Regions from separate parts of the Homo sapiens genome. Here region 1 is linked to region 2. A link means that fine-mapping ties the variant in region 2 to the plasma level of a protein whose gene starts in the linked region. Region 2 holds a variant in brackets. A gene starts in the other region. All regions are shown on their reverse strands.

Region 1 (15,559 bases), not on the chromosome of region 2:
GGGAGATGTTGGTCAAAGAATACAAAATTTCAGTTAGATAGGAAGAATAAATTCAAGATATCAATTGTACAGCATGATGAATATGGTTAATAACAATATTGTGTACTTTTGAAAACTGCTAAGATAGTAGATTTTAAGTATTCTCATTATGATGGTAAAACTTGAGTTGGGGCTATTAGAGGACAAGAATGTATCAGTGTTAATTTCCTGATGTTCATGGTTGTATTGTGGTCACAACAGAGGATATCTTTGAGGGAAATACACATTAAGGTATCAGGAGTGATGGAAAATAATTTTGACAATTTTCTCTCGACTAAAGAAAATCACAGATACATACGTCATTACAAACTGTGGCAAATTTGAGTACAAATATAAATAAACTATGCATAAAACTATCTGCTCTGAGAAAAATTAAAAGGGAGGGTGAAAAAGACTTCTTTGATGTAGCATCATGGAAGCTGAGACTTGAAGAATATGAAAAACTTAGCCAAGTTGTGGTCAAAGAGCAAGAGGTGAAGAAGAAGACATGTTCCAGCAAAGGGACCTGTATTTACAGAAGCCTTGAGATGGAATAGAATATGATAAAGTCAAACAGCAAACACTCAAGAACTAATATGTGTTTTATGTGATCATTCTGGAGAATGTGTGGTTTGTCAGTGGGAAGACGAGTTATCAAGTTATTTCTGTGACCCAGATAAGAAATACTGCAATAGCTTGGATTAGGACAGAGAGTCCCAACCTTGGCACTATTGACATTGGGGATGGACAATTTTTTTGTTGTGGGAGGCTGTCTGGTACGTTCTGGGATGTTTACCAACATCCTTGATCACTCCCATGTTTACTGCAGTATTATTCACAATGGCCAGGAGGTGGAAACAAACTAAAAGTTTATTGACAGGTGAATGCGGTAAAGAAAATGTGGTATTTACATATCATGGAATTTGAATAGCCAAAAAAGAGGGAAATCTTTTCATTATGCTACAACGTGGATGAACCTTGAAGACACTATGCTAAGCAAAATAAGCCAGTCACAGAAGGACAACTATTTCACAGTTCCACTTTTATAATCTTACGTGAGTTGTCTAAAGTAGTCAAACTTATTTAAGCAAAAAGTATGATGGTGGTTTCCAAGGGTTTCAGGAAGGGGGAAATGGGGGATTGTTGTTCAGTGGGTAAAGTTTCAGTTATGCAAGATGAAAAAGTTCTAGAGATCTGCTGTACAACATAGTGCCTAGAGTTAATATGGTACTACACACTTAAAAAGGTGTTACGAGGGTAGATCTCATGCTAAGTGTTCTTACCACAAGAAAATAATTTTTTTAAATCCAAATTTAAATTTTTCAGAAATTTAAGAAAATTATATAATACACAATTTAGAATACAAATGTAAGAACATTAATAATACATCAGAATGTTATTTAGAAACATGGAGATAAATATTAGAAACAGCTAGAAGAGCTAAAAGTGTTTACCTCTGGTATCAGGACCTCTGGGTATCAGGAATCAAGGTAAATAGGAGCAATGTAGGAGATTCCCATTGTAAACCTGGTTTTACACTTTACATTTTATACTGTGTACATATATTATTGTGATAATACTTTAAATAGAATTTCATATCTTTAAAACTAGGGAAAAAGTAGCTAAAGAATAGGCATAACTTCTTCCTGGTTGATCTTCCTTTAAGGAAGCATTTGCACCTTTGTCTGGCTCAGTGGAAGGTGGAGAAGGGGTTCAGATGATCATTTCCTGATTTTTAGGCATTAAATATTTTGGGATCCCACAATTTCTAACAAGGGCATTAATTCAGCTTATACTATTCAGTCAGGCACACTGTCAAGGCAAAGATTACTGTGATGTCACCTCTCATTAATATAAAGATATACACACACACAGACACACACACACACACACACACCCACGAGTCTCTCCTGCTGAAGCAAGTGCTTTAACAAGCAGAATATGTTCATACATGGTAGATAAATAAGGAATTAAATCACTAACATGTAAAATTGGGTTAATACAGTTTTTCATAAGGTGACTATGCCTTGTCCTGTCATATAAAACAAATCGAATGCAAAAATATTGAACATGGTATCTCTTGAGTGACACACAAAATAACAAACACTTCATCTCCTCCCTCTTATCTCAGTTTACCTATAGTCATTGCCCTACCAAGTGCGTGATGTGCTGTTATCCTGAGTTCTATCCTCTTCTTGATAGAAGTATTTAATACTGTGTTCAATGTCCTGGAAACAAGAATCTGAAACATGATTTTAAAAGAAATGCCTGAAGGCCAGGCATTGTGGCTCATGCCTGTATTCCCAGCACTTTGGGAGGCTGACGGGGGTGGATCACCTGAGATCAGGAGTTTGAGAGCAGACTAGCCAAGATGGTGAAACCCCATCTCTACTAAAAATACAAAAGTTAGCCAGCTTGTAGCCCCAGCTACTTGGGAGCTTGAGGCAGGAGAATCTCTTGAACCCAGGAAGCAGAGGTTGCAGTGAGCAGAGATTGCACCACTGCACTCCAGCCTGGGTGACAAAGGGAGACTCCATCTAAAAAAATAAATTAATAAAAATGTAAAAATAAATAAATAAAAGAAATGTCTTAAATACTGAGAAGTTTGAAATAATAAAATATTTTTGAATAAATGAGAGCATATGCTATTCACCACAGCAATAAGCTAAATGTTGCACTCCGTCAGAGATGAGACCGCTAGTGAGCCTAACACATCAGTTACTATCAGCTTCAAGTGATATTGATAAACAATTGTAGTGGATTAAAGGTCAAGTTTTTTTGTTTTGTTTTGTTTTTTGTTTTTTTGAGACAAAGTCTCGCTCTGTTGTCCAGGCTGGAGTGCAGTGGTGTGATCTCAGCTCGCTGCAACCTCTGCCTCCTGGATTCAAATGATTCTCATGCCTCAGCCTCCCAAGTAGCTGGGATTACAGGCATGTACTACCACACCCAGCTAATTTTTGTATTTTCAGTGGAGACAGTGTTTCACCATGTTGGCTGGCTTGTCTTGAACTCCTGACCTCAAGTGATCCGCCCGGCTTGGCCTCCCAAAGTTCTGGGAGTACAGGCGTGAGCCACCACGCCCAGCCAAAGATCAAGATTTTAATGTCAAGAGCATCAGCATAGAACTTTGCAGTTATCCAGTTTCATTTAGAGTTATACAGCTTCCTTACAAAAGGGAGGAACTGGCAAATCAACGAAGCGGATTGCTGTTTTAAGCCAGTACAGAAGTAAAAGATTGACGACAATGACCCTCCAGTATAACAACATTTAGTCCCAAGAATGATGATGTCCTTCATTCCACCTTTTGTACATACCTCAAAAGCCACAGTATTTCACCATACCCACTTACCAAGCAAACTCCCCATCTTTTGTCAAAGTAAAGTGCTACATTTACTACATAATTTCTTTATTAGGAACTGAAGATGTTTAACACTGTGGTCATGTTTTTATTGGGTGTGGGTTCTGTTTGTTTGATGTATTACTTATGAGACTGCACAAATATTGAATGTTCTACTTCAACTCTATTTTTTCCAGAAGCCCTATTATTTGTAGTGAGCAAAACTCTGTAACCTAATGATTTTCAGGAATATATATTCCACGTTTATGAGAAATATATCTTCCCTTTCATTCCCTGTCTTAGACTCCGCCATTTTGGTTCAAGGCTTTCCACTTTCTTGAAGCACATAAATAAATGATGCCCAAAAAAGACAATGAATGTGAAATCTGGTTAATGTAATTCACAAAATAACAGATTGAAGAGACAATCCATATATTTATTTCAATTGATGAAGAAAAGGCATTTGATAAAAATTCAACATCCTTTCATGAGAAAAACTCTTAGCTAACTAGAATTAAAAGGGAACTTTATTAACCTGATTCAGCAGAACATGGGATGAATTCCACAAGGTCACATGGCATGGGCTAAGGAATGCCTTTACTGGGTGAAACCAGTGAGCCAAGGATCAGCACTCCTAAGCATGGGATACTCCCAGCAGACACTCCCATCATTACTCGCTTCAGCCTACATTGAGGTGTTCTGAGGCCATGCACAGCTATTAGTCAGTGAGGCAGGACAGCAGCGTTTCTCAACATCAATACTATTGGCACTTGGAGACAGATCATTGTTTGTTGTGAAAAGCTGTCTTGTGCATTGTTAGATATTTAGCAGCAACCTCAGCCTCTAGACACTGGATGTGAGAAGCACATCTGTCCCAGTTGTGACAATCAAATATGTCTCCAGACATTGCCAAAGTCCCCTGGGGACAAAATAACCACCTTTTGAGAAGGTAGTTTACTACTACAAAACAGGAACATTGTCCCCTGCAATTTTACCTTCTTATAATATGAATATGAGAAGTTCCTTATGGGGCTTGCTTCCTAGACAGTCTAGGTTTCTAGGAAACCTAAATGTAAGCCTAAATGTATTTATATATATACATATATAAACATATTTTTGCTATGTATATATGTATATATATATGTAAACATATTTTTGCTATTGAGTTGCAGTTCTTTATATATTTTGAAAATTAACCCCTTATCTGGTAGGTAGTTTGCAAATATTTTTCCCATCTCACAGGTTGCCTTTATTACTAAATATTTTACATGTTATTGCTTTTAACGTATTACATTTTTCTAACCAATATTTCTAGTGTATAGAAAGCAGCTGACTTTTATATATTGATTTTTGTGTCAGCTAATCTTGAAAAATTGTCTAACTCATGATGTATCTGTAGTTTCTTTTGTGTTTTTATTATTGCATCATTTGCAAACAATGGCTTTTCTCGTCTCCCATTCTAATACTTATTTCTTTTCTTTTTCATTATATATATGTGTGTGTACATATGCATATATATATATATATACACACACATATAAATATAAAGACCCAATTAAAAGTGAATAAGACTTAAACAGACATTTCTCCAAAGAAGATATACAAATGGCCAACAGGTATGTGAAAAGATACTCAACATGTCTAATCATCAGGAAAATGAAAATCAAACCATAAGATCACCTCATACCTGTTAGGATGGCTTTTATTTTAAAAAGAAAAGAAAAAGAAAACAAGTACCGGTGAGAATGTGGAGAATTTGGAACCCTTGTGCACTGTCAGTGAGAATTTAAAGGAGTATAGCCACTACGGAAAACAGTATGGAAGTTCTTCAAAAAATTAAAAATAGAGCTATCACATGATCCAGCAATCCCCCTTCTGGGTATTTATCCAAAAGAATTTAAATCAGGATCCCAAAGAGATATTTGCACCTGCAAGTTCATTGCTGCAATATTCACAATAGCCAAGAAATGGAAACCTAAATGTGCATTGACCCATTGACAGATAAATGAGGGAAGGAAAAAGATTATATACATGTACATATATATGCATACCATGGAATATTATTCAGCCATAAAAAAGAAGAAAAGTCTATCTCATGCTACAACATGGGTGAACCTCAAGGACATTATGCTAAGCAAAATAAGCCAGTCACAAAAGGACAAATATGGCATAATTCCACTTTTATGAAGTGTCTAAAGTAGTCACTTATAGAAGCAGAAAACAGAATGGTGGTTCCAAGGGTCTGGGGGTGGGGGGAATAGGGAGTTGCTATTCAGTGGGTTTCAGTCATGCAAGATGAAAAAGTTCTAGAGACCTACTGTATGACACTGTGCCCACAATTAACAATACTGTTAGTATGCACTTAAAAATATGTTAAGAGGTCATGTCTTATAGTATATATTTCTTACCACAATTTTTTAAAAAAACACGGTGTTGAGCAAAGCATGCAAAATACAAAAGAATACTTAGGCCATAATTACGCTTACACGAAATTAAACAACACGTATCACTAAGCAAGCCATAGCAAGAGAGCAAAACTTTAAAGGAAAACATGAGGATGATTAACAGAAAGTTCAAGATAGTGGTTACCTCTGAAGTAGGGATGGTAATGTCCTATTCTAAATTGATAGGTTCATAGGTGTTTATTATTCTTTTTCAAAAGGTATAGAATGTTGATTACATTCTTTCATATGTAGGATTTATTTTACAATACTTTTTTTAAAGAAGTATCATCAACAGTCAATTACAAATGACATTTTGGGGAGAACCGGAGAAACAAATATGAACTGGCTATGAGATGACATGCAGAAACTATTAATTATCTTAGATATGATAATGGCTTTGTGATTATATTGAAGAATATCCTTATTCTTAGAATTTGCATGCTGATGTATTTAGGAAATAGGAACATAATGTATTCAATTTCATTTCAAATATTTCAACAAATGTAGCTATAGGTATTCTAAAATATCCCAAACTATTAATAATTGTTAAATCCAGTTGTAGGTATACAAGTATCATTGTTCTGTTATTTCAATTTTTCTGTATGTTTAAAAAGTTCATAATAAAAAGGTGGAGGAGGAAATAGCCAATACATTCCAACATTCTAGTATTTGTTTATGAACTTCCCAGATTCCATCCCTGGTATCCAAATGATCTGAGTCCAGTGATATGACTGGTGAGATTGTAACCAAAGATTCACCACCTAATAAGGAGTAGGCTCACTTCCAGGAATGGAGGTATCCTCCCTGCCTCCACTTAACCCCAACTCAGTCCCTTCCACACTTCAGGATGTGGAACACCCCAAACCCAAATCTTTGCATTACTCAGGGGTCCTGTTAGTAAATGACAGAAATCCAATTCAGACCAGCTTAGGCAGAAAGGTGAATGTATTGGGTGGTAACATAACCCTGGGTATGAGTGGGGCTGATCTCAGGAAAAAGTTTAGTGAAGGACTAGATATCCTCTAAATTACTCCCTGTCCATCTCTCATCTCTTTTTATCAGCATCTTAGATTTATCTTCTCAGAATTTCTCTCTCACCAGGGCCAGGACCAAATTTCTGGAGTTTCTGGGCTTATATCTGCAACTTTTCCAACAGGAAGGATTTTCCTCCCTTTAGTACTCATTCAAAGAAAGGACCCCAAAAGCCTGGTCACACACACACACACACACACACACACACACACACGCACACACGTCCATGTCTTCTTCCAAATCCAGGAATTTGGGGGATGCAGGGGCAGAGGAGGGAAAACAAATCCTATGAAGATGATACAGTATAATTATTATGCTCATTGTATGAATGAGGAAACGGAGGCTTAGAAAGGTGAAGCTGCTTTCAAAGTCACACAGCTGGTGACAGGTCCAAAATCTGCTTTCCTCCAGGCCACATGAGATTGGCGGGGGGCAGGAGCACACGGTGCTGGAGCGCAAGGCTGAGAGTGAATGTTCAGGACAGACATTTTAAGCACTGCCATTCAGATTCTTCCTTGGGGTGAGGTGAGAACTGAGAACAAGTCCGGGGCAGCACAGGAAGGAGGGAAGATTTTGGTCCCAGGTGAATCAGGCATGAAGAGGGACTGATAGAGAACACGGTGGAGTTGAGGAAGTCTGGCCCTGCCACTGCCTCGTGTGTGAACTTGAGTAATTTCATGCCCTTTCTGTGCTTCTTTTCCTCCTTCCATAAGATAGTTTGGCCCTGGTGGCGCCTAATGGTCAATCACGTGTCCATTTCTTCTCCTCGTGTGAAGAACGAGGGTCGCTCTTGGATTTCTTCATCTATTCCAGTGCAGAGCCTTAGGGAAAGCCCCAAGTCCCTCCTCAGAAGGGGCCATTTCCAAATAGAGCTGGGAAGTGCAGCCTCCCTTGCCATTTTGAGCCTTCAGCTCCACCCACTGGCATGCCCAGCAGGAACACTATAAAGCCAGGCTCAGCCCAGCTCCCAGCCAAGCACCTGCCTGGCAACATGGGGTCCAGCAGCTTCTTGGTCCTCATGGTGTCTCTCGTTCTTGTGACCCTGGTGGCTGTGGAAGGAGTTAAAGAGGGTGAGCAGACATGGTGGAGCTGGGTGGGGCTGGGCTGGGGAGAGGTCCTGAGGGGCCCTCTGGGGCTGGAGTTCTCATATCACCTTGTGGCTTCCTCCACTAGGTATAGAGAAAGCAGGGGTTTGCCCAGCTGACAACGTACGCTGCTTCAAGTCCGATCCTCCCCAGTGTCACACAGACCAGGACTGTCTGGGGGAAAGGAAGTGTTGTTACCTGCACTGTGGCTTCAAGTGTGTGATTCCTGTGAAGGAACTGGAAGAAGGTAAGGAGACCTGCCTCCCAGGGCTGGGGCTGTCCCTTCCCTGCCTCTATCTGACCCATGAAAGTTCGGAGGAATTAGTCCCTTTAGCTGGTGTGGGGAGGGATGGCTAAAGCTGGCAGGGCCCTCAGAGACCACCTAGTCTGAACATCTCCATTGTCCAAAGGAGGAAACAAGGATGAAGATGTGTCAAGGCCATACCCTGAGCCAGGATGGGAGGCCAAGTGTCCAGGCTCCTCCTCTACCAGGTGTCCTCAGAAATGATGCTGGGTCCTTTCTACCTCTGGGGGTCACTCTCACTTGGCACCTGCCCCTGAGGGTCCTGAGACTTGGAATATGGAAGAAGCAATACCCAACCCCACCAAAGAAAACCTGAGCTTGAAGTCCTTTTCCCCAAAAAGAGGGAAGAGTCACAAAAAGTCCAGACCCCAGGGACGGTACTTTCCCTCTCTACCTGGTGCTCCTCCCTAATGCTCATGAATGGACCCCTCATGAATGAAACCAGTGCCCTTATAAGAGACCCCAAAGAGCTGCCTTGCCCTTCTGCAATGTGTGATCACAGCTAGAAGGCACTGTCAGAGAAGAGAAACTGGTCCTCACCAGATGCTGAATCTGCTGGTGCCTTGATCTTGGACTTCCCAGCCTCTAGAACTGTAAGAAATAAATATTTGCTGTTTATAATCCACCCAGTCTATGGTAATTTGTTATAGCAGCCCAAACCTGCTAAGACAACCTAATAGTAAAAAAAAAAAATCCTATTCAACATTATCAAAGTGAATAAAATATAAAATACCTACAAATAAATCTAGAGATGTACAGAAATTTTCTGAAAGGAAACCCTAAAACTTTATTAAATGACATTTTAAAAGATCTGGATAAATAGACTAAACTTTTCTACAGAATAAATAAATAAATGTTTTTTAAAAGATATGCTCTTCCCCAAGCAGGAAGCCTCCTCAAAGTGTTCACCTTGGTCAGCATAATTTATACCTGAAATATAATTAAAATTAAAACCCACTGGGTTTTGCAAACCCTAATGAAATAATTGATTCTGGCAATGATTATCCATGGCTTCTGAATATTTACAGGGTGCCATTTCATCACCCTGTGGTATATTTACAGTTTGTAAGAGGGAAAACACAAGTTTACAACTTGAGGATTCAGGTACACACCGAAAACACATTAATCTGTCTCCACAATGCTAAAAATGGGTAAAGCGGACCTCCGTTCCTCCTGAGGTGATGCAACACAAAACACACAGCATCATTCAAGAAGGGCTCCTGCCAAGACAGTTGAGCATGAACCTCACCAAGCCTCTACAGCTAGCATTCATCTATGGGAAATGTGAAGGACAAAGAAGATGAAAGACATCACAGGGAAGCAACATGGGACATTCTAAAGAACAATTTGTCTGTTTTGTTCAACAAGTCAATAGCATGAAGAAGAAGAAGGAGGGAGGAAAGGAGAATAAAAAAGAGTTGGAGAGATTGTTCTAGATTAAAAGAAACTTCAGATACATTACAGCCAATGCAATATGTGCACCAACAACCATAGAGTCACTTTTGAGACAATAAGAAAAACAAGATGCAAATAGAATATTAGATGATGTTAAGAAACTGCAGTTAATTTTCTTAGGTGTAACAGTAGGATTGTCATTATGTGAGAAAGTGTCCTTAGTTTTTAGAGATGCACACTGAAGTATTTAAAGGTAAAGTATAAGATCGGTTGGATTTACTTTAAAATACTTCAGCCAAAAAAGGGGTGGGGATATGCATGAAGGAATTCTTGTAAAATGGTTCATTGTTGAATCTGGATGATGGGTATGTAGGCTCCATAAAAGTATTTGCTGTTCTTTTGTGCATTTTTGAAAACATTTTATGATAAAAACAAGGGTTTGTTTTTGCAACTTAACAAAATGATCATTAGGTTCACATGGAACAATAAAATACTTGTAACCTGGAAAATTGAAAATGTAGACTAATGAAGGGTAATGGATACCACCAGTCACTAAAACATATTATGGAGCTACAACAATTACAGCCACAATACAAGCATACCTTGTTTTATTGTGCTTTGCAGTCATTGCATTTTTTACAAATTGAAGGTTTGTGGCAACCCTGCACCAAGCAAGTACATTGGCTGCATGTTTCCTATAGCATGTGCTCACTATGTGTCTTTGTGTCACATTTTGGTAATATTCACAATATTTCAATTTTTTTCATTATCATTACATCTGTTATGTTGGTCTGTGATCAGTGATCTTTGATGATACTTTCCTAATTGTCTCAGGGTGCCATAAACTGTGCCCACATAAGACAGTGAATTTGATCGATAAATGTCACATATGTTCTGATTTCTCCCCCAACCGGCCATTCTCTGTTTCTCTCCCTTGGAACACAACAATGCTGAAATGAGGCCAATTAATCATCTTACAGTGGCCTTTAAGTGTTTAAGTGAAAAGAAGAGTCATGTCTCTCACTTTAAATCAAAAAAAGCTAGAAATGATTAACCTTAGTGAGGAAGGCATGTTTGAAAACCAAGAAAGGTCCAAAGCTAGGCCTCTTTTACCAGTTAGCCAAGTTATGAATGCAAAGGAAAAGTTATTGAAGGCAATTAAAACAGCTACTCCAGCAAACACACAAATGGTAAGTGAAACAGACTTATTGTTAATATGGAGAAAATGTTAGTGGTTTGGATAAAAAAATCAAAACAGCCACAGCATCCCCTTAGCCAAAGCCTAATCCAGAGCAAGGCCCTAACTTTTTTCAATTCTATGAAAGCTGAGAGGTGAGGAAGCTGCGTAAGAAAAGTTTGAAGATAGCAGAGGTCGGTTCACAAGATTTAAGGAAAGAAGCCATCTCCATAACATAAAAGTGTAAAGTAAAGCAGCAAGTGCTGATGGAGAAGCTGCAGCAAGTTCTCCAGAAGATCTACACAAGATAATTGAGGAAGGTGGCTACGCTACACAACAGATTTTCAATGTAGATGAAACAGTCTTTTATCGAAAGAAGAGGCCATTTAGGAATTTCATAGCTAGAGAGAAGTCAATGCTTGGCTTCAAAGCTTCAAAGGACAGGCTGACTCTCTTATTAGGGACTAGTGTATTTGGTGACTTTAAGTTAAAGCCAATGCTCATTTACTATTCCAAAAATCCTAGAGCCTTTAGGAATTATGCTAAATCTATTCTGCCTGTGCTCTATAAGTGGAACAACACAGCCTGGATGACAGCACATCCATTTACGGCATAGTTTACTGAATATTTTAAGCCCACCGTTAAGACCTACTGCTCACAAAAAAAAACAATTTCTACTTTCCTTTTGTAATATTTCTACTTATTGACAATGCATTTGATAGCCCAAGAGCTCTGACAGAGATGTACAAGACAATTAATATTTTCATGCCTGCTAACACAACATCTATTCTGCAAATCAAGGAGTAGTTTTAACTTTCAAGTTTTATTATTTAAGAAATACATCTCATAAGGCTATACATTATTTAAGAAATACATCTCATAGCTGCCACAGATGGTGATTCTTCTGATGGATCTGGGCAAAGTAAACTGAAAACCTTCTGGAAAGGGCTCACAGTCTAACTGCTATTAAGAACATTCATGATTCATGGGAGTAGGTCAAAATATCAACATGAATAGGAGTATGGAAGAAGTTGATTTCAACCCTCATGAATGACTTTGAGGGGTTCAAGACTTCAGTTGAGGAAGTCGTCACTGCAGATGTGGTGGAAATAGCAAAAGAACTAGAATTAAAGTGGAGCCTGAAGATGTGACTGAATTGCTACAATCTTATGATAAAACTTGAATGGATGAGGTGTTGCCTCTTACGGATGGGCAAAGAAAGTAGTTTTGAGAGATAGAATCTACCCCTAGTAAAGATGCTGTGAACATTGCTGAAATGACAAAACCAAGAATTTAAAGTATTATGTAAACTTAGTCGATAACACAGCAGGGTTTGAGAGAATTGATTCCAACTGTTTGTTGTTGTTGTTGTTTTCAGAGACAGGGTCTTGCTCTGTTGCCCAGACTGGAGTGCAGTGGCATGATCACAGCTTACTGTAACCTTGAACTCTTGAGCTCAAACAATCCTCTTACCTCAGCCTTCCGAGGGGGTAGGATATAGGCATGCACCACCATCCAGCTAATTTTTTAATTTTTTGTAAAGGTAGAGCCTCACTGTATTGCCCAGGCTGGTCTCAAACTCTTGGGCTCAAGTGATACTCCTGCCTTGGCTTCCCAAAGCTCTGGGATTATAGGCATGAGCCACTGCACCATGCCATGACTCTGATTTTGAAAGAGGATGTACAGTGTATAAAATATTATCAAACAGCATTGCATGTTTGATAGTATTTCACAATATGTGACAGAGAAATCTTTCACAATATACCTTTGTATCACACCTGCACATGTACCCCCTAATTCTAAAATGAAAGTTGAAAAAAAGGAAGAGTCCATGGATGCAGCAAACTTCATAGTTGTCTGATTTTTTAAAATTGCCACAGTCAACCTATCCTTCAGAAACCACTACCCTGATCATTCAGCAGCCTCAACATCAAGGTAAGACCCTCCGCCAGCAGAAAGATGATGATGACTCACTGAAGGCTTACATGATTATTAGCATATTTTAGCAATAAAGTATTTTTAAATTAAGGTACATACTTATTTTAGACAAATGCTATTTTGCACTTAATAGACTACACTATAGTGCAAACATAACTTTTAGATACACTGGGAAACCAAAAAATCCACATGGCTCACTTTAATCCCAGCATTTTGGGAGGCCAAGGTGGGAGAATCACTTGAGTCCAGGAGTTAGAGACCAGCCTGGGCAACATAGGAAGGCCCCCGCCCCCCGCATCTCTACAAAAAATAAAAACTAACCAAATATTATTGCAATATTCTCTTTATTTCAGTGGTCAGGAACTGAACCCACAATACATGCTTGTCTGTGCTGGCATAAGAATAAACAGTCAAAAGAAAAGAACGGGCAAGGCACGGTGGCTCACGTCTGTAATCCCAGCACTTTGTGAGGCTGAAGCGGGCAGATCACAAGGTCAGGAGATTGAGAGGAGCTTGACCAACATGGTGAAACCCTGTCTCTACTAAAAATACAAAAATTAGCTGGGTGTAGTGGCATGTGCCTGTAATCCCAGCTACTCAGGAGGCTGAGGCAGGAGAATTGCTTGAACCCGAGAGGTGGAGGTTGCAGTGAGTCAAGATCATGCCACTGCACTCCAACCTGGGTGACAGAGCGAGACTCCATCTCAAAAAAAAAAAAGGAAAAGAAAAAAAATGAAAACCCATAAACAGCCCCTGTTACAATAAGACTTAAGTTATTGATAAAGTTTTAATTCTTAATCAATGGCAAAAGTTTAAATTATTCACTAAATGATCATAGGACAATTGCTTAATTACTTACAAAAAAAAGATATTTCCTATTTCACGCTCTATACCAAGATAAACTTCAGCTAGATTAAAGAATTATCATGTCTTTCAAAAATCACAAAATAATAACAAGTAAATATAGTGAATATTTATCTAACATCAGAGTCAAAAAGCCTTTTTAGCATAAAAATAAAAGGAGAAAATATGAATGAAAAGATTGAATTGATTACCCCAAAATTTAATCCTTTGGTACTAAGCAAAAATGAGGAAAGAAATATTTGCAATATAGCATCAAAGCATTTATCAAGTTTATCTCATTCAGTTCTCAGAACCATCCTATAACACGTATATGATTATCTCTATCTCTACTGGTATACAAAAATAAACAGGGGTTTTACAAAATTAATGTCAAACAGATAGAGCCTATGGCACCAAGATTCAAAACTAGGTCTGCCTAACTCCAATATACATCTGTTCACTACTGCCCCTTGTGTATGACAGGTTAATAGATTCTTAATATATAAACAGCTCTTAAAACTCAAAAATAAAAGGACCCCCAATAAAAATGAGCAAAATACAAAAACAGGCAATTCACAGAGAAAGGATACAGTCAGTATGCGAATATGAAGAAATGCTCACCATCATGGGTATTAAGAGGAAGAGGAAGACAAATTAAAATGAAATATTGTTTTCCGTTAGCAAAGATTTTATTTACTTATTTTTTTAATATCCTGTATGTAGTAAGAATATCCACTAAGGATCTTTGGCTGTGAGCAACAGCATCTGAGCTTTGGACTGTTCTGTTTAGAGAACTGGCTTATCTGTTCAAGACTCTAATGAAGGCGTGGGCAAGTTAGGGGTGGAGAAGAGTGCAGTGGGTGTAACCTGGATCCAGTGCCCTCAGCTTTGATAGGAGAAGTACCTGCTGATTGGCAACCAACCAGAATGACAGCAGTCAGGAGGCAATGGTTCCACCAAAGGAAGAGACGCTGGGCAGACGAAACAATAGAGGTCTATGGCAGGGCAGGTGGAGGCTCTTGTACACTCACTTACTTCCTTTCTGAAATTTAATTTGACCAGATATATCCAACGCCTGGAAACATGACTGTGCCTTTTGACCTAGCATTTCTAACTTTGACAAATTTACTTTAAGAAAACAGTCAGAGATGTGACTCCAAAATGTACACAAAAAGATGGTTATCACAGCTTTATTTATGAAAGTGGAAAATTGGAAACCTCCATGTTTCATAATAGGATACTGATTGTGTATATTTTGGCATATCTTTTTTCCCTAAAAACTTTACTGAAGTGATGTTTTGACATATAGATCTAACAAAACAGCATGTAGCCATCAGAAAACATGATGTTTAGAGAACATTTCACAGCACAGGAAAATGTCTACAAAATAATTTTAATTTAAAAAGCATTGGCATGGTGGCTCATGCCTGTAATCCCAACACTTTGGGAGGCCGAGGCGGGTGGATCACCTGAATTCAGGAGTTTAAGACCAGCCTGACCAACATGGTGAAACCCCGTCTCTACTAAAAATACAAAAAATTAGCCAGGCATGGTGGCGGGCGCCTGTGGTCCCAGCTACTTGGGAGGCTGAGGCAGAGAATTGCTAGAACCCAGGAGACGGAGGTTGCAATGAGCAGAGATTGCCCCATTGCACTCCAGCCTGGATGACAGAGGAAGACTCCGTCTCAAAAAAAAAAAAAAAAAAAAAAAAAAGAGCATTTCATGGCTGAGCACAGTGGCTCACCCCTGGAATCCCAGCACTTTGGGAGGCCAAGGTGGGAGAATCACTTGAGTCCTAGAGTTAGAGACCAGCCTAGGCAACATAGGAAGACCCCCCATCTCTACAAAAAATAAAAACTAGCCAAATATTGGGGCGCATGCCTATAGTCCCAGGTACTCAGGAGGCTGAGGCAGGAGGACTACTTGGGTCCATGAGGTCAAGGGTTCAGTGAGCCATGATGGCACTGTGCACTCCAGCCTGGGTGA
Region 2 (15,559 bases):
TACAGTGTTTTTCTGTGTATGTGATAACTAAAGCAATGTGCTTGCAAGGTTTCCATAGGAGCACAAATTATGGATTTTGTGCTTGCATTTATTATTAAATGGATCTACAAAAATAGGAATACAGATAATGGTTCTGTAATTAATTTATTTATTTTGAGACAGAGTCTTGCTCTGTTGCCCAGGCTGGAGTGCAATGGCGCCATCTCGGCTCACTGCAACCTTCACCTCCTGGGTTCAAGCGATTCTCCTGCCTCAGCCTCCTGAGTAGCTGGGATTATAGGCCCCTGCCACCACGCCCAGCTAATTTTTGTATTTTTAGTAGAGATGGGGTTTCACCATGTTGGTCAGGGTGATCTTGAACTCCTGACCTTGTGATCCGCCCGCCTCGGCCTCCCAAAGTGCTGGGATTATAGGTGTGAGCCACCGCACCCGGCCTATTTTATTTTTTTGAGACAGAGTCTCACTCCATCACCCATGCTGTAGTACAGTGGTGTAATCTCGGCTCACTGTAACCTCTGCCTCCTGGGTTCAAGCTGTTCTTCCACCTCAGCCTCCCTAGTAGCTGGGAATATGGGCATTTGCCACCATGCCTAGCTAATTTTTGTAATAATTTTTTTTAGCAGAGATGGGGTTTCACCATGTTGGCCAGGCTTGTCTCGAACTCCTCACCTCAAGCGATTCACCCACCTCAGCCTCCCAAAGTGCTGGGATTACAGGTGTGAGCCATTGTGCCTGGCCTATTATTTTATTTTAAGATATGTATATTTTTTAGAGACATTGTTTTCATTGTGTTTCCCAGGCTGGAGTACAGTGGCATGATCATAGCTCACTGCAGCCTCAAACTCTGGGGTTTCAGTGATCCTCCTACCTCAGCTTCCCAAATATTGGGATTATATGCATAGCCACCATGCCTGGTTGGTCCTGTTTTTTTAAAAATGACAGTAAGAGGCGGGGAGTGGTGGCATATGCCTGTAATTCCAGCACTTTGGGAGGCAGATGCAGGTGGATCACTTGAGGTCAGGAGTTCAAAACCAGCCTGGCCAACATGGTGAAACCCCATCTCTACTAAAAATATAAAAATTAGCCGGGCATCATGGTGGGCACTCATAATCCCAGCTACTCTAGAGGCTGAGGCATGAGAATTGCATGAGCCCGGGAGGTGGAGGTTGCAGTGAGCAGAGATGGCACCATTGCACTCCAGCCTGGGTGACAGCAAGATTTTGTGTCAGAAAAAAAAAAAAAAGACAGTAAGGAAACAGTTTTTGTGACAAGTAGAGTTTTGATTGAAAAAAACTTAAATTTGTTTAAATTACCTATCAAGATGATGAAATATACTTTTTTTTATTAAATTCTTAAATGTCAGTTTTCTTTTTAGAAAGTTTTTATTAAATATTAGGCAATAAATTATTTCTTTTTTGAAAATTAAGTTTGTAGCTACCTCAGAAAGATGAATAATTCGTTATTTCAAAATCCAGTGATTAACTGAGCACTTAGCACTTAGTATTTGTTCGTTGCTGATGCTCCTGGTCTCGGGAACATACTTTAAGAACCGTTGATGTAGAGAGATTAGAAATATCAGGGGAAGTAGTTAAAAACTATTCTGGAGTGGTGAGATGCAATCTCAGGCTTTGAATTAGAGGGTATTACATAAAATGCATTGTAGGGATATTTCTCTGGTAGCAGTTATAGAATTGATTAAAGGGATGGACTGTTAGACTGTAGGGAGGTAGATAGGAAGCTGTTGAAATAATAAGACAGCTATAAAATCATGAGGGCCTGGGTTACAGTGGCAGTGGTAACAGGAAAGGAGTGAAGTTAAGAGGTTTTTGAAGAATAATTTGTTTATCGAAACTAATTGAAATAAATATTTGTAAAGTCTTTAGGATGTGAACCATCTCTAAAATGAGAAGTTAATCATAGATATTTGGAGGATAGTTTTTCAAGCTTCATTGAAAAGTCAGGCCATCAGTTATTATTGGCAGTATCTTGATGAAATTTCAAAAAGCCATGAAAACATCGCATGAATGATTTTGGTTTTCATTTGTCCTGCTTAATGTGCATATATTTCATTCAGAAATACTGAGGTGGATTAGGGATTGTGGATCTGTAGTAGTAGTAGTAGTAGAAATAGGAATTTTAGATGCTTAACTTTTTTTTAAATAACAGAATTCATTCATATGATGTGTTAAGGTAGTGCCCCTCACATATCCTCCTTGGGATATAGAGGGTCTTAAAAGCTGAAAACTTCTTGAAAAACTTTTGGGATTATATGCATAGCCACCATGCCTGGTTAGTCCTGTTCTTTTAAAAATGACAGTAAGAGGCCGGGAGTGGTGGCTTATGCCTGTAATTCCAGCACTTTGGGAGGCAGAGGCAAAAGTTGCTCAACTTTTTGAAAAAAAAGAAGTTTGTAGTTTGTTAAGGAACTATCTAGAAGAAATAACCCAAGGAATGTAAAACTCTAAACTGCTGAATATCACTCAGTTCTCCTTCTCTTGTCATCAGAATATATGCGTAAATTTTTACATTCTTCTTCATTGTTACTGTGTTATTTTCTGCCTATTGACCATTTTATAAAAACATTCCCATATATTGATAAGGTTATTGTATTTGTCATTTTTAATAGCTAAATAATCTTTTAGCTTGTTAACCTGTCATACTTAGACATTTTATTCAGGGCCTCTTTATCTATATAAATATATTTAAAATGGAATTGACACATTCCTGACACAATGGCCTGCCAACACCTTGCTATTTCCTCAGTTGCCACCCATCATTACAGTATCTCAGTTTTCTAGAAAAATTTAGTGATGGTTCTTTGTATCCTTCTCCAGTGGAGAGGGAATTGTTACTTTTGATCCATTCCTGTGTGGCTATACTGCAGAGAAATGGCAAAAGGACCGAATCAAAGTTAATAATTATTTTAGGAACAAATCAATAATAGAAGATATGCCAGAAACCTACCTCTTAGAGTTATTTATATAATTTCTCCAGTGAAATCTGGTTGGTTATTTTGTCATTGTGTGGCACGTGCATGTGTTGTTTGTGTGAGAGGGAGAGAGATTATATTTGTCATCACTTGTTTGATAGTATCATCTTTAATGTACTCTGTCTTTAATTTCTTCATTATAGAATAGCACATGTGGATATCATTTTCTTTCCAGATTGGGAGCAGTGCATGAAAATGGTATTCCTGAATTCCCTTGGTTGGTTCTTGTTCAGACTCTGTATATCTTTGGTCCCTACAGAGATCGATTGGCAAAATGCTTTCTGTGTTTAGATCATGTTAATTTACTATATATTGGCTTTGCTTTTATGTTGACCTTTATCTTGTAAGTTACTTTTTCTTTATCCTAACAGATGGCTTTGTAGAGTTACAGGCAAGGTTCCTGCCTATAATTCCATTTCCCTCCTCTCTTCTCTGCATCTGTTTAGTTCTATATCCTTTTCTCTCTTCTTTCTCCTTTTCTTTTTTTTTCTCCCTCCATTTCCTCTCCCTCCCTCCTTCCTTTTTTCCCTTCCTCCCTCCCCCCTTCCTTCCTTCTTTTTTATTTTAATTTTAGCTTAGTTCATTAATTCTATTTTTAGGTCGGATGATGAGCAGAGCTCTGCGGATAAAGAGAGACTTGCCAGGTAGGAGAACAGTGTCTTTTAGCATGATGAAGCAGATGATGCTGCTTTTTCTATCCTTTTTCTTACTCTTTCTTTTCTTCCCCTTTCTCTTTGTATTTTTCCTTATCTGTGGCAAGAGAGGACAAGATTTTTTAGAAGTTTGAGTGTAACAGGAACTTTGGCTTCCCCCATCAGAAAGTGGGTGAGTTGAGGGAACTTTGCTTAGGGATTTAAGAAATTGCTATTAGTTTTAAGTTTTTTTTTCTTTTTCTCTTTATGTCAGTACTAAGTTTCACAGAACAAAAAGCTCTTAGAAGGAATGCAACCGTGCCAGTTGGTGCTTTAACAGGGAAATACTCTTTTTATCAGAAAACCAATAAATATATCTGTATTTGTGATTAGTTCCCAGTATTTAGGCCTCAGCATTTACTCCACACCTCTAGGAAACTCACACCTATTTTCCTATGAAGACTCACAGCCTAGATTATTCTCACAACAGAACTAGTGTTGCTTTGGTGACCGAATCCTTTCTTGCGGTAGTTTTCTAGAAAAGTTTTAGTTTCCTTGATGTGGCTATTTAAAAGACCAGGTTTCTGTACTTACGTGTCAGAAATCTGTCAGATACTAGGAAGATGAGTGCTTTATGTTTGAGAATAGAATTTTATGTCTTAGGCAAAGTGTAACTAAATATGGGCCTATGTGGTGAGACCCTTTTTGCCATTTAGAAAGGAGACTCTAGAATTCTCTTGGGAGACTGTTGTTTGTAATGTAGAAATGCTGCAGAAGAAATATGCATAGACTTTTCTGTTTTCTAGTATCTGTGATTTGGGGGTGACTTAGGAAATAGATCATTGATGCCAATACCCATTTTTACTATATTCCCCCTTTTTTCTACTATTTCCTCTTTAATCTGGGTCACAAACTCATTTTGCTGCCAGTTTAACTCGAGCTTCTTACTAACCCTTTCACTGTTCAGAAAATGGATTTGGCATGATGTGGTGGAGAAAACATTGTATTGGGAAGAGAGCAGCCTGGGGAAAGTCACTTACCTACTTGACCTCCCTTTGCTCTTCTCAGAAAAAAGAGATTTATGTTAGATTTTTAATTTTCTTACTTTCTTTTTTTTTTGGACAAAGAACTTTTGTTCAAGTAGAATTCTTAAGTGGTAACAGAAATAAATAAAAGAGATAAAGCAGGCCGGGCGCAGTGGCTCATGCTTGTAACCCTAGCACTTTGGGAGGCCGAGGCAGGCAGATCACGAGGTCAAGAGATGGAGAATATCCTGGCCAACTTGGTGAAACCGCGTCTCTACTAAAAATAAAAAAAAAAAAAACTGGGCGTGGTGGTGTGCGCCTGTAGTCCCAGCTACCTGGGAGGCTGAGATAGCAGAATTGCTTGAACCCAGAAGGCGGAGGTTGCAGTGAGCCGAGATCCCGCCACTGTACTCCAGCCTGGGTGACAGAGCAAGACTCCATCTCAAAAAAAAAAAAAAAAAAAAAGAAGAAGAGAGATAAGGCAAATATTTGAGTAGAAGCAGAAATGCAGCATGTTGCATGATTATCTCCTTGAGGCATCCCCATGGAGGACACTGAGAAACTTAATGGGCTTTTAAAAATTCCTGTTGGAAAACTGCTGGATTATTCCTGTTAACAGTGATATCTTTCTGTCTTAATTTTGAGGAAGTCAGTGTTGGAGCTGTGGTCTATTTACCTGGGTGAGATTCAAATTGTCTTGTCAGACCTTTAATCATCCTCCTCTCCATTCCACTCCTCCAGTTAACTTCGTCCCAGACTGGGGACCCATATGGGACTTTTAGTAGATGGTGTATCTTAAGTCTTGTAAGAAGTTTAGTGCACTGGCAGCACACCCAGATAAAGAAGGTAGGACTTTGTGCATTAATGGGCCAAATAAAACTTCAAAATCTTCAAATTCTGCCTTTTAATGTTGCAAATAAGAGAGAGGCTTACCATATTTTATAGACCAAGGAAATCTGTACTATCAATTCTTGTATCAGCTATGGAGCCACATACTTGAGTTGGCAAAAATTGGTCCTTTTATTTTCTGGCCTTTAAATAGTTGAATTAGTAAGCATGGGAGTTAACCAAGCTGAGGTTATATGTTCCATAGGAACTTAAGTGAGTAAAATCAGCATTTAAAAATACTATCTTTTTTTTTCTCTTGTTTTTTGTTTTTTGTTTTTTTTTGAAATGGAGTCTTGCTCTGCCACCCAGGCTGAAGTGCAGTGGTGTGATCTCAGCTCACTGCAACCTCCACCTCCCAGATTCAAGTGATTCTCCTGTCTCAGCCTCCCAAGTAGCTGGGATTACAGATGCATGCCACTGTGCCCTGCTAATTTTTGTATTTTTAGTAGAGACAGGATTTCACCATGTTGGCCAGGCCGGTCTCAAACTCCTGGCCTCAAGTAATCCACCTGCCTCCATCTCCCAAAGTGCTGGGATTACAGGCATGAGCCACCATGCCTGACCTGTCGTTTCTTAAAACAGCTTTTGTTCTGAGGGAGTGGTAATTTACAAAGGATGTGAAGTTTCCAGGAAATAGGGGGAAGGGAATTACATTATCTTCTTGTTCTCTGTCTGCCTTATTAGTTCTGTTTCATGCTTGCTTTGCATGAGAAGGTTGGCAAACCTTATTTTAACTGCTGAGACTTAAGCATCACTAAATCTGAATACCACATTCTTCAGCAGCACACTTGGTATCCATATCACTCTCCCTGCTACCAAATGACCAGATGTGACCACCTGGATGGGGCTTCTCTTTCTTTCCATGCAGGGAAAATCACAGTGAAATTGAACGGCGGCGACGGAACAAGATGACAGCCTACATCACAGAACTGTCAGATATGGTACCCACCTGTAGTGCCCTGGCTCGAAAACCAGACAAGCTAACCATCTTACGCATGGCAGTTTCTCACATGAAGTCCTTGCGGGGAACTGGCAACACATCCACTGATGGCTCCTATAAGCCGTCTTTCCTCACTGATCAGGTCTCTGGGACTTATAGTTCTGAGAGAGTCTGGAATCTGGGTGAATCTCTTGAAAGTTTTCGTTTTTTGGACAAGAATTCAGCTTTTCAGGAAGAAGTCAGACAATGGGAAAACGAATTTCAATCCTTGGCTATAACATTAATTAGCATTGGGACAATGAGAAGTAGAGAAGAGTTGTGAAAACTATTTAATAAGCTAATAAGTATTAATATTTGAGAACTTGACTCATGAATATAGCATATAGGATGGAAGAAGAACAGTGGAATCACAGAGGAAATGACTATGTCCATGGAACCAATTTTCTTTCTTGCCTTTAGGGTTATAGAAGATGGAAGAAATCTATTTCTTATCCCTGAAGCAGCTTCTAGTTTTAGTAATAGAATGAATCTGTCCCACCTTTGGTGATAGAAGAACTGAGAGTCTAATTGTTGCTTAGGGATGTGCTCTGTTACATGTGATCACTATGAAAAAAAGAAGGCGTAAACATTTTCTGCCTTTCAGGAACTTCATCTGAATATAAGTATGTGAGTGGCAGGATATCACAGAAAATAACAGGAAAATGCATAAAGAGAGGAATTGTATTTTTTAATTAGTAATTTTATGTGGGACTAGATAGACATACTGAAGGGATGGCTAAAGTGAATAGAATGGCTAGACTTGAGTGAGGATGGTTAGGGAAGACTTCTGAGGGTAAGGAAGCCATGTTCTGTTTTGGTTATTAAAATAACATGATCATTGCAGAAAAATTTGGAAAATGTAGGAGGTATAAGGAAGAAAAAAATTTACTTCAGTATCAATCAAGTATTCCCTTAATGCCACCAATTTAATCAAATGATTAGAAAGAAGGAGAGAATATAGTTTGAGAAAATGGAATAAGAATTTTCCAAATAGGATGGTCTACTTAAAACTACATACTTTGTAGCTATATACATTGAAATAGTTAATATGTTCTAACAGTACATGTGCAAGTATTCAACAGACTCCAGTTATGCACCTTTTGTGGGCAAACCAGGTGTGTTGTGCTGTGAGAAATAGAAAGAATGGTGAGACAAATGGTTTTCTGGTGGAAACAGACATGTAAATAAATAAATTAAACATAGAACTAGTTCTATAATAGAAGTGCTGTAATGAATCCTGTAAAATGCAGATATGGAAAATGAGTTGGGGAGTAGTGTTGTGGATTTTGGGAAGCACTTGAGCAAAAACCTAGAAGTGTGGAATAATTGGGTTATGCAAAGAAAGTCAAGTGGTTTAGCATGTTTTTGGTAGATAATAGGAAGGTAGGCTGGGATCTAATGATGGAATGTTTAGGTGTTAAAGAATTTAGATTTTAATTTTTATGCAGTGGGGAGACATAAAAAATGTATTAGATCTGGTAGCATTTTAAGGATTGATTGAAAGCAGGGCGACTACTTAATTAGTTTTGGTAAAAGATGACTAGGACAGTGACAAAGCATTGGAAAGTAGAATCGATAAAACTGAATTATCACTGGAATGTGAGAGAATAGTTAGATTTTGAGGCTTCTAGCTTAGGAGGATGCTGTTAAGAATATTGGAAGAGCACGGCAGGTTTTTTTTTTTAAGAGGGAAATAATGATTCAGGTTTTGGGATGTTGATGTTGAGTTGCTGGTAGAATATTTATAAATATTTTACAGATACTTGAAATTCAAGTCTGCTGAAAGCTCAGGAAAAAACGTTAGTCATGTCTAGGGCTATAGACTTGGTTATTATTTCGTAGTGGGGAAGAGTGAATATGGTTTCCCAGGAAGAAAGTATGGTATTAATAAAGAGGGCTTAAGATGAACTTTGGAAATGTCTACATTTAAGACTTGAACAAAGGAAAGGAAGTCTGAAACAGAAGAGGAAGCAAAAATTGGAGTACAGTCTCATAGAAGAAGGTAGGGAAAAATAAAATTTAAAGGATAAGATGGACGACATTGTCACATTCTGCAGAGAGGTTGAATAAAGTGATGAAGACCCAGGAAAAGGGACTTGAATTGGTAATTAGGAGGACATTAGTAACCTCATTAAAAATATATGTATGCTGTTCCTGGCAGAACAAAAACCAAACCAAACAGGAAAACAGTAGTTTAGAGTGAGAGTGAAGTGGGATTGAGAAATAATTGAAAGGTAAGAGGATAAAGCCAGTGAATATAACATTATTCTTAGTATAAGCTTGCTGCTGAAAAAGAGAGATGAGGTGGGTCAAACTGAGGGAAGATTTATCTAGAATTGAGAAAACTTGATCATTTTTATAGGCCTGAAGGGAAAGAGAGAAAGTGGGAATATTTGTCAAGCAAGATCCTAAAAAGAGACCAGAGAGGATGGAATTAAGAAGTCAATTATTGTTCATGGTAAGCCTTTTTTTTTTTGAGACAGGGTCTCTTGCTCTGTCGCTCAGGCTGGAGTGTGGTGGTATGATCTCGGCTCACTGCAACCTCTGCTTCCCAGGCTCAGGTGATCCTCCCACCTCAGCCTCCGGAGTAGCTGGGACTACAGGCGTGTGCCACCACACCTGGCTAGTTTTGTTTTTGTTTTTGTTTTGTTTTGTTTTGTTTGTTTGTAAAGATGGAGTTTCGCCCCATTGCCTAGGCTGGTCTTGAACTCCTGGACTCAGTGACCCTCCCACTTTGACCTCCCAAAGTGCTGGGATTACCGGCGGGAGCCGCTGTGCCTAGCCCAAGCCTTTTTATTCTTCTTGAATCCTGAGATAGAGAGGAAGAGGTGGATAGTGACATAGAGAAAGTGAGGAAACATGTATTAGAAAAAACTTTCTTATCGATGAACTACATTTAGGGTGGAAACCTGTGGCTGTGGATCAGGTGTGAACCAGCAGTTGCTTACGGAGAGATGCATGTGGCCTGAAGTGTCTTACTTCTTCC[T/C]GTGAATAGAAATACTTGTTTTTTCAGAGTAAAATATTAACTTCTATTTCTTTTTCTTGCGCAGGAACTGAAACATTTGATCTTGGAGGCAGCAGATGGCTTTCTGTTTATTGTCTCATGTGAGACAGGCAGGGTGGTGTATGTGTCTGACTCCGTGACTCCTGTTTTGAACCAGCCACAGTCTGAATGGTTTGGCAGCACACTCTATGATCAGGTGCACCCAGATGATGTGGATAAACTTCGTGAGCAGCTTTCCACTTCAGAAAATGCCCTGACAGGTGAGAGTTATGTGTATGGGAAATGAATGAGAAGTCCTTTCTTGTTTTTTTCCTGAGACTTAAGAGATGTTTTAGCTGTTAAATTGGTTTGTTGACTCTGGCAAGGCTTCAAGAATTTTCTACTTTAATGAATATAGTCAGTTCTTTTTATCCATATGAGATTATCTACTTTGTGGCTCAGCCTTAGAAAATATTTCATTGGTGATAATATTTTACATTTATCTTAATATTGGTATAAATAGAACAGTAAAAGCCAAACCTACAATACTTTTTTTTTTCCGTTCTAAAAGAATTATCCATGTTTTTATCTCATTTGTATGGATAATTATCTGGTATTTTTTCTACCTCCTGGTGCTTGGCTTTGTGCTAGGTTCAATGATAACAGCTTTTTATTCTATAGATATGGTTATTGGTCAATGTATAAGGTGTTTTCTGTTGTTGTTGTTGTTGTTGTTTGTATCTGTACTGTTGTTCTTTTTTTCTCCCCTATTTTATTATGTTCAGTCTTTTGGCCAGAGTTTGGCTAGAGGAAACAAGTCATATCTATTCTTGAGCAACTCTAGAAAAAAATTTAAAGTGGAAGCAGATAAAAAAACTGGTAGTTAAAATGCAAGAAATTTCAATATACTCATATTAGTGTTGTTGATCTTTAGTTTTCCTCCTTTTTTCCCACCCAAAAAAGAGACAGGGTCTCTCTCTTGCCTAGGCTGGAGTACGGTGGCACATCATAGCTTACTGTAATCTTGAACTCTTCTGGGCTCAGTAATCTGCCTGCTTACAGCTTCTTGAGTAGCTAGGAGTAGTTCATGTCACCACACTTGACCAATTTTTAAATTTTTTGTAGAGACAGGTTCTGTCTGTTGCCCAGACTGGTCTCAAACTCCTGGCCTTCAGCATTCCTCCTCCCATCTTGGCTTCTCAAAGGGCTGGGATTATCGGCATGAGCCACCACACTTGACCAGTTTTCCCCTCCTTTATGTTTTTATGATTTCATTTTTCTAGTTCTTCCTTTTCCCCAAAAGTTGTTCTTCGTTTCTGTATAATAAAGAAGACAAACAGATCTATATGTTTCTATAACATATAAAATTACTTGGTTTTTTTCTTTTTAAAATTTTTTCTTTTTATTCTTTTTTTTTTTTTTGAGACAAGGTCTTGCTTTATTGCTGAGGCTAGAGTACAGTGACTCTTCACAGGCACAGTCATAGCACACTACAGCCTCAAACTCCTGCCCTCAAGCAGTCCTCCTGCCTCAGCCTCCTGATTAGCTGGGACTACAGAAAAGTACTTGTTTTTCAACCAATGACATTTACTCTGTATGTATGTCTGTATGTGTATACAGATAATCAGCTATGAGAATATAGCCTTGCCTCTTGTTTTCTACTACTACTTTCCACTCCTACTTTTCCTTGCACAATGTTATTTTCAATGCTGCCTTTGAACTTAAGAGTGAGATTCATTGATGATAATTGAAGTATTTTAGGCTTGAAAAAAAATTCATCTCCTGCTTGGTCAGTTCTGTTATAAGCAAGGAGATTAAGGGCATGAATAGGATGCTTACTTATCTTTGCCTTCAGTATCTCTCCCCCTCTTCCCCACACACAAAAATGCACTCCAGACTGCTCTTCACATCTTCCTTCAGGGCGTATCCTGGATCTAAAGACTGGAACAGTGAAAAAGGAAGGTCAGCAGTCTTCCATGAGAATGTGTATGGGCTCAAGGAGATCGTTTATTTGCCGAATGAGGTGAGTGTCAAGCTGAGGATTGTGATTTGGTATAGGAAGGATCAAGAGCTGAGAGTTTTATTTCTGTCAGAGTTAAGTTGGATTAGCTCCAGTGGATTAAATTTAACTCTCCATACCCAGATGGATTGTAACACAGAATAAAGTATTTGGAAAGGGAACTAACGTTTCTGAACTTGCCAGACACTATGATAGGTGCTTTATATCTGTCATCTTATTTTATCCTCACAATTGCCTTGTAGTGTAAGATTGATGGTTACCATTTTGCAGATGGAAAAACAGATATAAAGAAATGAACTTGGCCAGGTGCAGTGGCTCAAGGCTGTAATCCCAGCACTTTAGGAGGCTGAGGCGAGTGGATCACCTGAGGTCAGGAGTTTGAGACCAGCCTGGCCAACATGGTGAAACCCCATCTCTACTAAAAAAAAACAACAACAAAATTAGACGGGCGTGGTGGCGTGCGCCCATAATCCCAGCCACTTGGAGGCTGAGGCAGGACAATTGCTTGAACCCAGGAGGTGGAGGTTGCAGTGAGCCGAGATTGTGCCATTACACTCCAGCCTAGGCAAAAAGAGTGAAACTCTGTCTCAAAAAAAAAAAAAAGAAAAAGAAAAAGAAATGAATTTCCCACTGTTACATACTGTTTGATACAGGATTTTGTTTTAATTCATAGTAGTCTGACTACAAAACCTCTACTTTTTCCCTGTTACAACACAAGGCAATATCCATTTACTCAGACCATTTCTTCTTTTTTTTTTTGGTTAGAAATTTGAGACTTCCTATGTCTTTCAGTAGGTGTTTAGTGTTTATAAATTATATACTGTACGTTTTAGGATTCTGTAGAAAATATGGTGGTCCTTTCTATACAGGTACAAAAGGCATCTCAGGGTCACAAAGTTCAGGCTATATAATGGAAATTGACTACATTGTACTGAGAGGATAGTTGCTAGAAATTATGGGTAGGATATTAAAGGTTTGCTTGGAGAGGCACAAAATTGAACATTATGTGGTTTAGTGATTTATTTTTATTTTTATTTATTTATTTTTTTGAGACAGAGTCTTGCTCTGTTGCCCAGGCTGGAGTGCAGTGGCATGATCTTGGGTCATTACAACCTCTACCTCCTGGGTTCAAGCGATTCTCATGCCTCAGTTTCCTGAGTAGCTGGATTGCCACCACAGCTGGCTAATTTTTGTATTTTTAGTAAAACAGTGTTTCACCATGTTGGCCAGGCTGGCCTCAAACTCTTGACCTCAAGTGATTCGCCTGCGTCAGCCTCCCAAAGTGCTGAGATTACAGGCCTGAACCACTGCACCCAGCGTGTAATTTAGAGTAGCTTCTAGACCCAGACTGCTGGATTTTGTTTTAATCCATATTCTATGGATTTGAATTCTAGCTTTGATGCTATCTTCTGAAACCTTGGATGATTACATGACTACATTGTGCTTTGATTTCATCATCTCACATTGGCGATAATGTTAATACTGACTTTATAAAGTTGTTATGAAGATTAGATGAATTAATATATGTAAAGATATTTAGAACAGAGCATGACACATATTAACCCTATGTAAGTTTTATTTTTGTTTTAAAGGATAGGGAGAGGGAAAGTAGCATTGGCAGGAGTATCCCAATATGTGGACATGGCTAATGCAAAGACATAGGCAAGAGCAAGATAATAATGAACTGTAGCAATTACATTAAGTTGTGGTTAATGTAGAGCAGGAGTAAGCAAACCACAGCCCTTTATTTGTAAATAAAGTTTTATTGGAACATAGCCATGCCCATATTTTTACATATTATCTATGGCTATTTTCATGCTATAATGCTAGAGTTGACTAGTTGCAACAGACTTTCTGGCCCGCAAAGCTGAAAATATGTACTATCTGGTCCTTTACAGAAAAAGCTTGCCAACTCTTGATGTTGAGAATGTTTGCATATGAAGAACATATGGAACATTTTGACTTCAAATTCTAAAAGTTTTAGAAATACTAAACTTGACCTATCTTTATCCTTCATTATTAGTAGCATTACCAATTTTCTATGTCTGGTTGTATCCAGAGCATGTTATTCTGCTATTACTGTGGAAAGTTCTTTGATAGGGCAGTCTGATTGCTTTTAATCTCTTTATTCCTTGAAACAGGTGTGGCAGTAGCTCTGTGGACCCAGTTTCTGTGAATAGGCTGAGCTTTGTGAGGAACAGATGCAGGTGAGATCCTAAGTGGTGAAAACCAAAGGGATGGCCAAATACCTGCAGAGATCATCACATTTTTACCTGTCTTACTGTAGTCGTTCCTTCAGCAGCTCTCACTTGCATCCCTTACCTCCCACTTAACATCCCTTACCTCCCACTTACTTTTTTTCTGGCAATATTTTCCTAAACTTCTAAAACTTCTCTTGAAAATCCTGTTTAAGGAAGTCGCTATGCTATTTTACCTACTTTCCTCCTACTGCATACCTTTTGGTTACTTTACTTTGGCAAGGGTAAAAATGTGGCGGTCATTTTTGGGTGGGAAAGATGATTATCCTGTTTTCTAAACTCCTAAGAGCATAAACTTAAAAGTACTAAGGCAGCATTGCCCTTTGAGTTTTACGGGTAGATTTTTTTTTTTTTTTTCAAACTCCTGTAACTCTTCTAGGAATGGACTTGGCTCTGTAAAGGATGGGGAACCTCACTTCGTGGTGGTCCACTGCACAGGCTACATCAAGGCCTGGCCCCCAGCAGGTAAGAAAGTGAAATAGTAAATATTTCCCCTTGGTACAGTTGGTTCCTCACAGAGTCCATGAAAGCTAATATTTATTATATACCTGGTATATGAAATGTACTTTTGTGTAAGATGAAAGAAAATAGGAAAAGAAAATGTACAATCCTTCCCTTCCATTATTGAGCTTTTATTCCAGTTGAGGAGATAGATAACTCAGGCTGGAAAATGATTCAGTATTGGCTGTGTCACAGAATGTGGTTTTTATGTGAACAAATTTATACTGAACATATGTATTCTAAGCATTTGTTGCAAAGAAACTTAGACATTGAATGCAGTTAATTTGAGAAAGATTTCTAAAGTAGGAACAAGACTTTGAGAGAAAAGGGGAAAATGCCTTTATTGTAATAACTTATCAAGAGGATATTCTCTGCAAAGACTTTAAATCAAGCTTTGAGCAGATTAGCTTTACCAGAACTTGAGGTCAAACAAGGAATGTGAGAAAGGTGATTGGGTTGCAGGATCAAAGTTTTAAGTTGGCTTGTCAGAGTTTCCAAATCTTAGCAACTTTATTACTTCCCTGCTGCCTGGGTATTATTGGAAAGTAGGGGTTTTGGGGAGACAGAAACTAAGAGAAAAGAGAAGCAAGGTGATGTGTTTTGGAAAAAGGTTAAACTTTGGATGTGGAGAAACCTGGATGTGATTCCTGTCATTGTTACTTATTAGTGGCATCACCTAGGGTAAGTTGCTTGACCTTTATAAAGCTCAGTTTTCTCATCTGTAATTCAGAGTTAGTACATCCTGTATAGGGTTTTTGTGAGGATTAGATTTAATGTAAGGAAAGCATCCAGCCCAGTGCCTGGCATATGGCAGGTAACCCAATAAAAGTAATTAATGTAATTTAAAAAAATTTAACTGAAGTAGTAATGACATTTGAACTACTTAGTCTATATACTATATAAGCCACACAGTTAAAGTATGTGATCTTTCATACCTCTATGTAGCATCAAGGAATACTATTTTTCTGGATAAAAAGAGTATAACTATGCAAAAAACAGGGGAGAAATGCAGTCTTCTTCCCTTTCTGTGTAAAACATTGGTTTTTCTCTTTTCCAAGGGACATGAATAACTATTGATGGTTGGTATAACTTCATTTTGGGTTGCTTGCTAACTTTAAAAGTTACAGATTAGGCAAAGCATAAATTTTCTGCCTATAACATGGTCATAGAATGGATGTCTTCATATGTGCCATATTTGGCCAGCATAGTTTTTTAGAGTACTCTGGGTAGGACTTGTATTTTCCAGTTTACTATAATTAACATGGGTAAAATGTAGGAATTAAT

Which allele goes with the higher level. Alleles are on the strand shown, and positions count from the first base shown. The strength of an association depends on the size of the effect and on how common the allele is.
In carriers of allele T in region 2, the plasma level of the protein whose gene starts at base 7,805 in region 1 tends to be lower than with C alone (moderate association).

What was found. PIP is the chance, under the fine-mapping model, that this variant and not a neighbour inherited with it causes the effect. The UK Biobank Pharma Proteomics Project read protein levels with antibody pairs (Olink). The fine-mapping took linkage between variants from a reference panel, not from the people measured, so its PIPs are less certain.
Region 1: WFDC12 starts here. The variant in region 2 is fine-mapped to the plasma level of the WFDC12 protein (UK Biobank, PIP above 0.99).

What each region holds. Positions count from the first base shown.
Region 1 is chr20:45,116,711-45,132,269 of GRCh38, reverse strand. It overlaps WFDC12 (WAP four-disulfide core domain 12), which reads left to right and starts at 7,805. Exons shown (of 3, transcript NM_080869.2): 1 at 7,805-7,901; 2 at 8,005-8,163; 3 at 8,327-8,845. The coding sequence starts at 7,823. The coding sequence ends at 8,424.
Region 2 is chr1:150,830,498-150,846,056 of GRCh38, reverse strand. It overlaps ARNT (aryl hydrocarbon receptor nuclear translocator), which reads left to right. Exons shown (of 22, transcript NM_001668.4): 5 at 3,589-3,633; 6 at 6,403-6,616; 7 at 9,564-9,777; 8 at 11,417-11,519; 9 at 13,658-13,723; 10 at 14,154-14,239. Among named protein-coding and RNA genes, the nearest start is that of CTSK, 30 kb to the right of the region's middle. RefSeq lists cis regulatory regions at 299, 9,644 and enhancers at 227-371, 9,572-9,716. The variant T/C (reference allele first, on the strand shown) is at 9,500.